2 separate regions of the Homo sapiens genome follow, and region 1 is linked to region 2. Evidence: fine-mapped expression QTL. A gene starts in region 2. The other region holds a variant in brackets. All regions are shown on one strand. Distances are from middle to middle.

What was found. PIP is the estimated chance that this variant, and not a neighbour inherited with it, causes the effect.
Region 1: its variant is the best candidate, but not a certain one, in a credible set for the expression of FKTN in whole blood (TOPMed, PIP 0.89).

Annotation. Positions count from the first base shown.
Region 1 is chr9:105,592,575-105,597,961 of GRCh38, reverse strand. FKTN (fukutin) reads right to left here. Exons shown (of 11, transcript NM_001079802.2): 4 at 1,305-1,364. Among named protein-coding and RNA genes, the nearest start is that of FKTN-AS1, 37 kb to the right of the region's middle. RefSeq lists an enhancer at 4,318-4,857. The variant A/G (reference allele first, on the strand shown) is at 2,731.
Region 2 is chr9:105,554,995-105,560,381 of GRCh38, reverse strand. FKTN (fukutin) reads right to left here and starts at 2,251. Exons shown (of 11, transcript NM_001079802.2): 1 at 2,217-2,251. FKTN-AS1 (FKTN antisense RNA 1) reads left to right here and starts at 2,076. Exons shown (of 3, transcript NR_184141.1): 1 at 2,076-2,612; 2 at 3,207-3,268. RefSeq lists enhancers at 1,991-2,180, 2,341-2,390.

The DNA of each region.
Region 1 (5,387 bases), 38 kb before region 2:
TAAAAGGTTTGGGAATGTTGTCAGAATGTTGTTGGTTAATACCGATAAAGGAAAACCTTTTATCCAACTGAAGCTACTACGGCTTTAAATTTTTTGCTGAAATTGCTTTACAGTGTACAGATGAAGACTCCTAATAAATGGCAAATCTGAAAAATATATGTTTCTCTAAGTATCATCACATCTTATAATGTTAAAATGTATGAAAGATCACCCCTGTTGCCTTTGGCTGTTAAAATACTGAATTTTAAATCTCAGCAAATTACTTCAACCACAAGATGATAAATCAGGTCCAAGTATTAGGTGTATGTGTTTCCTAAGGGTGGGATGGAGGTAGAGAAGTGTTACAGAGAAGCATACAAAATACCTCTTTTTAATTTAATCTAAAATCTTTATAACTGTGACTGGGTAGTATAACTTCCAAGTATATCATGCTTACCTTTATCCTCAGAATACCCTAAATTCACAGAGCAAAACAATTGCTATTTTTAATAAATTAAAAGTTTACATTGACACTTATAGACTAGAGAGCTGGGGAGCCTGATAATAGGATATCCCAGACTTTACTTTTAAACAGTAGTTCAAAATCTACTTGGTGTTAGCAATGATCTAAAATGACCACTGCTTGGTGATCTGAAAATCCACTTCTAATTTAAAGTGTTCCACATCTCTAGTTATAGAGAAGCCAAAGATTGAAGTGTATCAAGAAATATCTGGTCATTCCCATAATGTATGCTAACAGAATAAATGTTGTGTTTTATTAGTAACCCAGCAATGTTTTTCTTTCTAAATTTAGTTTTAAAACATAGGAAAATATATTTTATCAATGTGTAGGTTCTGAAATTTCTAAAACAAAACAAGGATATATTGTATATATTGCTGGTTTCCCCTCATCTTATAAAGGAATAGGTTGAATAGATTTTTATTCCTGATCATTACTTTTCCCTTATTCAAATAAATCTGATTCATATATTCATTCATTTAGGGAAACACCATAGCTCAGTGAATGTGGGTTTTAGAGGCAGACAGAATCTGGTCTTACCAAATTATCAGCCAACTAAGTTTAATCTCTCTAAGTGAATTGAGAGTAACAATATTTACTCACTTCTTAAACTTTCTATAGGGACTAAATAAGACATTGCATAAAGCACTTGGTAAAGGGCCTGTCCCTTACCTGCCACTACCAACCGGCCACCCACCACACAAGGTAGCTATTATTATTGCCATCATTCAACAAATACTTACGGAGTAAATGAATGAACTAAATGAACATTATAATTGAGAAATTTCTTGTTTATTCTACATACCCACTGTGTGCTATCAAATCCAATTCGGCTTCCTTTGGATTTTGACAAACCAGCTCCATTCTAGGAAGACAACAAAAGAACTTTTTAGTAAATTCAAAGTCCAGCATGCAACATTACATTTCAGTTAGGCATGAGATTCAAAATATAATTAGCTTATAATCATTAAAAAGCATTATCAAATATCTATTTTTCATATAGTCATGAGCTAAGAATTCTACATTTTTATGATATAAAAATCCAAGATGGAAAACATCGATAGATTTGTAGTAAGTTAATTAAGTTATTAAATAATAAGGTAGACATGGTCAACATCTCTGAACCAATTAATTTCCATCAATGAATGGCAAACTCTTTGGAATTAGGGTTTGTCTGTTAAGGTCTATGTCTATATCTGCAATCTCAACATATTGCCATATATAAAATTAGTGTTTGTAGACTTTGGCAAAGTGATAAAGTATACTAATGTTTATTGAAGAGCTCGTGTGTTTGACACTTCCATATATCAATTATGTATACTCATTGATCCCTCACAACAATCCTGCAAGGTAAACATTATTATTTGTTTTGCAGATAGCACCAGTATGCACGCTTTGCCTAACATACATCGTAATTTTGAATGTTGAAGTTTTTATAAAAGATATTTCAGGTCTAGAGCATCAGAAGAAAATTATTATGAGTTTTCATCTGGTAGCCCCAAAATACTTTAGAGTAAGAGGAGAAAGAATGTCTGATGTTCTAGAGACAAAAGGAAGAATGTTTCAAGCGTAATGAAGATCCAAATAAGTTTCTTATGCCTTGAGTGCATACGTTATCTATAAGCTATAGATGGGAGGATGCTGAAGAACGATTAGAGTAGTCTCACCCTAAAAATGAAATGTGCTCCAAGTTCCTAAACCTCATTTCCCCATTAAACCTCACATTCAAGGGGAGGGACAAAGTCCAATCCATCTTTGTATAACCAGTAGCACCTAGGATAGTGCTTGATGATTTTTATAGCTTAGTAAAGGTTTGTTAATTGGAAGGGGAGAGGAAGGGATGGAGAGATGAAGATACTAAGTAATTAAGACTGAGCCAGAATTGGTCTCTCCTCACAAGCTCTGCAACTTAGCCAATAACATTTTAATACTAAGGGATGTCTGAGAAAAAAACAACTGTAATCTTGAAACCTGAAAAGAGACTGCAAACATTGTAATACAGCTACTTGTTCACCTTAGTCCTACATTAGTTGATTACAAATACAGCTCAGCTATATTTCTGAGCTGTTCAATTTGTTGAGTTTGGGATAAGCAAATTTCTAGTGAGCTAGCATGTTATTTTTATATAGCTTTATTGAGATATAATTCACATACCATAAAATCTGCCTTTCTAAAGTGATTTTTAGTATGTTTAGAGTTGTGCAACTATTACCACTATCTAATTCCAGAAT[A/G]TTTTAATCACTCCAAAAAGAAACTATGTTCCTATTAACAGCCACTCCCCTTTCCTCCTCCACTCAGCCCCAATCATAACACTAATTATCTTCTCTGTGGATTTGCCCATTATGGACACTACATAAAAATGGAATCATATATGTGGCCTTTTACATCTGGTTTTTCACTAAGCATGATGTTTTCAAAGTTCATTCATGCTGTGGCATGTATCAGTACTTCATTTCCTTTTATGGCTAATATTCCATTGTATATTCATTCATTAGTTGATGAACATTTAGGTTATTTCCAGCTTTTGGCTATTATGAAAAATGCAATCGGAAATATTCATGTTTCACAATCATTCTCTTGTATACACTGACAACTTTCCTCCATCTGACTTCATTTTATTTGCTCAGCAAAGGCCAACTTTCTACTTATTCTGCACCTGCAACTGTGCAGCTAATGTGGCTGCTGACTGATATCACTTTATTATTATTACTATTATTAATGAGACAGGGGTCTCTGTTGCCCAGGCTGGAGTGCAGTGGCGTGATCACGGCTCACTGCAGCCTCAACCTCCCAGACTCAAGTGATACTCCTACCTCAGTCTTCCTAGCAGCTGAAACTATAGAGGCATGCACTACCACACCTGGCTAATTTTTGTATTTTTCATAAAGACAGGTTGTCACCATATTGCCTAGGCTGATCTCAAGTGATCCACTTGCTTCCGCCTCCCAAAGTGCTGGGATTCCAGGTGTGAGACACCATATCTGGCTGATGTCAATTTAAATTCATGACTACTAATCCCAAGTGGGGCTTTAATTCTGCCCAGAAATCATACTACATTCCCCTTGTGTATTAACTGTCTCATTCTCCTAGATGACTTTTCCCCCTTTTTTCTAACACCTCCCTATCCTATCTTTCAACTTATGGCATTGCTTTCTATTTCACTGAGAAAAAAGAAATTTGAAAATAATTTTCAAAAACCCCCACCACATCTTCCCACCTACTGTACAAGAATTATATCCATATAATACACCTTCCCTTCTGTCATAACAGATGAATTGTCTATGTTCCTATCTAAGGCCAGCCTCTCCACTTATGCACTAAATCCCATCCCCCCTTGACTGGACAAAGACATTGCTCCAGCAATTTTTCTTTCTCTGATGGATCATTCCCATCAGTATACAAACATGACTATTATTTATTCCATCTTAAAACACTAATAATTAAAACAAAACACAAAAACTTCTCAACTCCTCTTTTCCCAAAGAACAACTTTCTGTCCCCCATTACAGCAAAACTCCTAATGGGTTGTCTCTTCTCATTGCCTCCAATTCCTCTCCTCCCATGAACTCACTTCATTTTAAATTCACTCTGCTGAGCATCATCAAGATCACCAATGACCTGAACATTGCTAAATCCAACGGTCAATTATCAATACTTATCTTATTTGATATACCAAGAATTGTTGACAACCTCTGCCTCACTGAAACACTTCATTCACTTAGCTCTCTGTATCACCATATTTCTGTTTTTTCTCTGTTTCTCTCTGGCTGCTTCTTTAACTTGTCAGTTCTTCCTACTTCCCTGATGTGTTGGAGGGTCCCAAACCTCAGATGTTGGCACTTTCTTTCTCCCCCTTTAAAAATCTATATTCACTTCCTTAGTATCTCATCTAGTCATATGGCTTTAGACACCATCTATATGCTTACAACACTCCATTTGTACTCCCAACCCACTCTACCCAGACTTATATAGCCAATTGTCTATTCACCTTCTTCATTTGAATGTCAAATAGGCACCTGATGTGCTTTGGATCTGTGCCCCACCAAATCTCATACTGAATTGTAATCCCCAGTGTTGGAGGCAGTACCTGGTGGGAGGTGACTGTATCATGTAAACAGTTTCTCGTGACGGATTTAGCACCATCCCTTTGGTGCTGTTCTTGTGATAATGAGTGAGTGAGTTATCCTGAGATCTAACTGTTTAAAAGACTGTAGCACCTCCTCCCTCTCTCTCTTCTTCCTGCTCCAGCCATATGAAGTGCTGGTTCCGCCTTCACCTTCTGCCATGATTCTAAGTTTCCTGAGGCCTCCACAGAAGCCAAGCAGATGCCAGTATCATGCTTCCTGTACAGCCTCTAGAACAATGAGACAATTAAACTTTCCTTTATAAATTACCCAGTCTTAGGTGTTTCTTTATAGCAATTCGAGAACAGACTAACTACAGAAAATTGGTACCAGGAAAGCAGTGTTGCTGTAAGGTGTCTGAAAATGTGGAAGTAACTTTGGAACTGGGTAATAGGCAAAGGGAAAGTTTGGAGGGCTCAGAAGAAGACAGGAAGATGAGGGAAAATTTGAAACTTCCTAGAGACTTGTTGAATGGTTGTGATCAAGATGCTTATAGTGATATGGACAATGAAGCCCAGGCTAAGGAAGTCTCAGATGGAAATCAGGAATGTATTGGGAGGTGAAGCAAAAAGTCACTTTTGTTATGCCTTAGCAAACAACCTGGCTGCATTGTGCCCTGGCCCTAGAGATCTGTGAAACTCTGAACTCGAGAGTGATAGTTTAGGGTACCTGGAAGAAGAAATTTCTTTTTTTCTTTTTTTTGAGACAGAGTTCACTCTTGTTGCCCAAGCTGGATTGCAGTGGTATGATCGTGGCTCACTGCA
Region 2 (5,387 bases):
GAACATCAGTATCACATTGGAGCTTGTTAGTAATACAGAATTTTCAGCCCCCACCTACTGATTCATAATCTACATTTTAATAAAATCCTCAGATGATTCATATGTACATTAAAATTTGAAAAGCACTGATGTAGATGCTAAGGGCTTTACATGCAGGGAGGATAAGAACAATGTCTACCTTGCTCGTCGTTATATCCCTAGAACCAGCAGTGCTTGAAACATATAAATATTTGTTGAATAAATAAATATGTAAATGATACCACTTCTGGGTAGACAATTAGGCAGTGGAGATTATATCTATTTGAATTATTTATTTTCTGCCAGAATTCCCAGAAGTAGGTGCTTATTATTTGCTGTAAATGCTGTTAAATTAGCTTAATAACAACACTGGGCCCCTGAGAATCTACAACTATATGTAACTTTTTTAAAAAGAACTCCTTCCTTGCTCTTAGCTCTGAGATCCACATGCCTCCTTCAATAATTTCTCCAACCTCCTCTCTGTGGGTATGGCCTATAGTTACTCTCTCTACAATCTCTCCCTGAAACCAAATCCATTCTCAAGATTTTAACTACCACCTGTGAGAGAAAACACTATTTAAATTACAGTCCATGCACTCTATCTGCCTATATTTTCAACTCTATTTCCTGCACCTCACCTCAAATTTAACATGTTCAAAATTAACTTTTTTTTTTTTTTGAGACAGAGTTTCGCTCTTGTTGCCCAGGCCGGAGTGCAGTGGCCTGATCTTGGCTCACTGCAACCTCTGCCTCCCAAGTTCAAGCGATTCTCCTGCCTCAGCCTCAGGAGTAGCTGGGATTACAGGCGCCCGCCACCACACCCGGCTAATTTGTTGTATTTTTAGTAGAGATAGGGTTTCACCATGTTGGCCAGGCTGGTTTCGAACTCCTTGGCCTCAGGTGATCCACCCGCCTCAGCCTCCCAAAGTGCTGGGATTACAGGCGTGAGCCACCGCGTCCAGCCCCAAAATTAACAATTTTATTCTCTGTCAACTATCGTCCTCTCCCAGTCCAGAAGAAAGTAACTAGCTCTCCATCCTCACAGTCTCTAGTTTTACAGGCTTTAGAGAAGAGAGATCAGCTGGCCCAACATCACCTTATGGAGAATAGGCTCTAGAAGAATTAAATGACAGCCAAGAGGCTAGTTATTGGCAACCTCAGCACTCTACGATCTAAATCACTTTATTCCCAGTACACTATTGCATGCTGGAATTCAACAGAATTCCCATTTTTGCCAACAGCACTTAAACTTACTTTTTAGAAACGCAGGTTAAAAATATCATCACCCAGATCCAAGAAATCAAGTCCTGCGTATTGTTCTTTCGGCATTTCCCCGGTTCCTTTCTTCTTCCTTGTCAGAACACCCTGCACTTCCTTTCCACTAAGAGTTCTTTCACCGTTCAATGCCAGCCTTCCCAAATCCTCTACCCTCACTAAACTTATGTCCACAAATAGAATCGCTAAAATATAAATGCTTATTCCTGCATTTGATATCTTTGTCCATGGCCCAACAGAGATGGTTTCCAATCGTTCAAACCCTATTTATCCTCAGAGTCTAGCTCAAACACAGCCTTTTCTACTGGGCTTCCATCTGCCCAATTTCTAATATACTGCTCTATCATTCACTTTGTCATTTGTTCACAGCTTGATTTTTACCGACTGGAAACGTGCTATCTTCAAAAGCATAAAGAATCTGATATATCATCTAGGTCCTTTTTTTTTTTTTTCCACATCTGACAAAACTGAAGCCAAGAGAAATGTGGCTTACCTCATGTTAAATGAGAAATTGTAAATTTCAGGCCGGGCGCGGTGGCTCACGGCTGTAATCTCAGCACTTTGAGAGGCCAACGCGGGCGGATAACCTGAGGTCAGGGGTCACTACCCTAACCCGGCTACTACAAGAGTCTCGATCGTCCTCCAACCTTTCATCTGTCCCAGGATTAAGATTTCACCTGATGACACGCCCAGAAGTGCGGGAAGGACTGGCCAAGTGGAAGTCTACCACGCGATGCTCGTGGACTGACTGAGGAGTACCCAGCCCGGAGCGCGCTCAGCCTGTGGCCGGCCTCCTCACCAAGGGGTAGGCAGGTGCCCAGAATGCTGGAGGATGCCCGGTAAGGGCACCCGAGTCGCCAGCGGTACCTGTCTGAAGGCGCCCACCCATCCCCGGGTACCGACCTGAGCCTCCCGTACCTTACCTCACTCAACAGCAGGCTGCAGCCGCTCCGCTTTACGGCACTCACAGCAACCGCCGCAAAAGCCGCCGTCAAGTGCTGAGCGGCGGAGGCTGGCTTGGTTCCTGCTGGGACGTTCCCACGGTCCAGCCCCAGCCTCGGCTTTCCTGTGACTCTTGTCGCATCCTCACCGCCAGAAGTTCACTGAGCCCTGGCGATTCCTCGCTTTTATAATCTAGCCACTTAGCCAAAGCCCTTTTTTATCTCTTGCCTAATTGACAACTACAGCAGCGCACTGAGGCAATCTGAGAGTTTAAGTTCTGAAACGCTTTCGACAGCGGAAGATGAACTGGAGGCAGCAGCTGAGCCGTTTTCCAAGCCCGTTAAATGTGAACTTCTGATAAACGAGTGGTTTTTTTAGTGCGTGTGCTTTGCTAGAGGGATTCAGCATAACTCCCTGAAGTTTGGTTTGGATACAATTAGTAGAGCTAGGGGATAGAGTGGAAAATAGCAGCTGCGTTCACTATTCCTCATGAAGTTGAGGTGCCTTTATGACATTCAAGATTTAGCGACCTGTTGCCCTCCAGTTTAAGGCTGGATACAATTTTGTACCTGATTAACTTTTTTCTTTTCTTTTTTTGTAGAGACGTTGGGGGCTAGCAGGGCGGGGTGTGGCGGGGGTGGGGGGGAGGGCGTCCTCACCATCTTGCCCAGGCTGGTCTCGAACTCTTGGCCTCAAGCGATCCTCTCACTTTGGTTCTTTTAACGGTGTAATCCAAAAGGTGGTTGTTAAGGCTCAGATATTAATCTTCTTATAAATTTTTGAAAACCATAATTCACTAAACCAGTTACTGTAATTATAATTTATTTCTACAAAACGGAAAATACTCCCATCATATATTTGTTTTCTAAGCTTTGTTTTTAATTCTATCAGTACAGAAAGAAAAGGAAGAAAAAATCTTCCTCACTTCCTACAGGTTATGACATTTACCAACTTTTTGTTTTTCCTTCCAGAAATTTCCTATGCACATACAAGCTTACTGTTGAAGTCCTCTCATCCAATGCACTCAGAACGGGTAGGTACTCAGTAGGTTAATAAAAAAAAGTGGAAGGTTACACCAAGAGGAAGTAAGTTATCAAAGCTTAATGGCATCATTAACACAGGTGCTAACGTGATGGGACATGGGAAAACTTGAGCATCACATACTTGCTATTGATTGAAACACATCAAATATAAAAATTCTTGAGTTTATAATGACTCCTTAAAAAATAAAATTCAGTCGTGATTGAAGATTGCCAAGTTGAAGATTAAATATTCTAAAACTTGATAAGGGAAAACATCAAGCATTTATCCTGCCTTTCTTGTATGAATTGAATTTTAGTGTAACCAAAGTACTTATAAGAGTTCCAGCTAATAAATGGAGGATGATAAAACAATCACGATTTTGTAACTCCTAATAAAATAATCGAAAGGGCAACATCAATAGATGATAAAATTAAGGTGAAAGGTTGATGGGGAACTTTATAATAGACTGGCATCACCTAAACCCACTGATCTTAATCTCACTAAATTTGGGACAAGCATATATTATGTACTTCCTGATGTGATAGAAAGTACACAGCCACACCTGTGAAGGATTCTTGCCTAAAAATTGAACCTGCATTTACTCAAACTCTAGATCTAATACAGGATATAGAGAAGCAACTAAATTCAGAAAACGGGACATTCTACCAGACAAATTCCTCAGTTTTTTTCATAAATGGCATTTAAAAGCAGAGGGAACTATTGTAAAATCAAATATTTAAGAGATGTAACGGAGTACAATGTGTGGACCCTGTCTAGATCTTGATTTGAACAAGATAACTGTAAAAAGATACTTCTGAGACAACTGAAATTTTAGTATGGACTGATCCATTAGATAATAGTACAGAATTACTGTTAATTTTGCTAAGAATGTTAACAGAATGTGGCTGTTTTTAAAAGCCATCATGGATGCATATAGCATACTTACAGGTGACATTTTAAAACAAAATAGATAGCACAAACATGGCAAAATGTTAACAATTGATTAGGTGATGAGCACAAAGCACTGGCTTTCTACTTTTCTGTATATTTGGAAATTATAATTAAAAGTAACAGGAAAAGGGAAAAATTATCAGGTTCTTAGAAATAAATACTTTCCAAGTGTATAACAAATCTAGTTCTGAATAAACCTTCTCAAAAAGGCAGTTTCAGTAGAGGGTTACAATGGCCAATCTTCTGTTTTGAACTAAGTTCATTTTAAGCATGGACCAGCTGATTAGAGTATCTCACTGTTTTTCTTACAAAACCATAGACATAATGCATCATCCATCATTTGTAGTTTCTGTTTCTGTAAAATGGACCAGGAACTTAAAGATACAAGTGAAGGAATATAAATTTGGAGTCCTGGAATTTATTTTTAAAAATCTTCCCCTATCACTCACAATTACTTTGGCCACAACTAACTTTGCAACTTTTTAAACTCTTCATCTCTAATGGTTCTCGTACTTTTCTTATAAGTACCTTTTCATACTCATTTCATATTTATTTTGGTTTATATATTTATATAATTGGTTTACATACTTACATGACTACAACAGTGACTACCACCTACATAAGCAGGTTTGGGAACAAACATAACTGAAGGTAAATATACAACTAAACTGGTGGCAGTGTTACTTATCAAGCATACTGAAAGGTCAAATGTGAGCCCTCAGCTCATGGCAAACGTCAAGTCAGTATGCTTTAATCTGGATAGCAAATACAGCTGAAAGAGTGGGTACAAGGATGCATAAAAACAGCCTCTCTTACAAGTAAATATTCATGTTCTATAAACCACTCAGCTGTGCACACATGTAAGGATCCTGGCCGACTCCTAACATTTGTAGGGTCTGGGCCAAGAATACAAATGAAAGCCAACCCTGACATATTTTCAGTGTCTAAATAGCTGAGCGTTAACCAACAAATAAAATGTTATACTCTTCTACTTTAACATGTATTCTCAAGGAACAGAAATCTAGGTTCAAATATGCGATTCGCAGATTCTTCAGAAGTGTACTAGAAAGTGATACTAGGTTGGCCTGCCCTTCCCTGATCCCCTGGGTCTCTTTTTACTTCTAGCTTAAGCCTGCCACAGGGGCCTATCATGCATGCATGTGGACAACTCAGTCTGC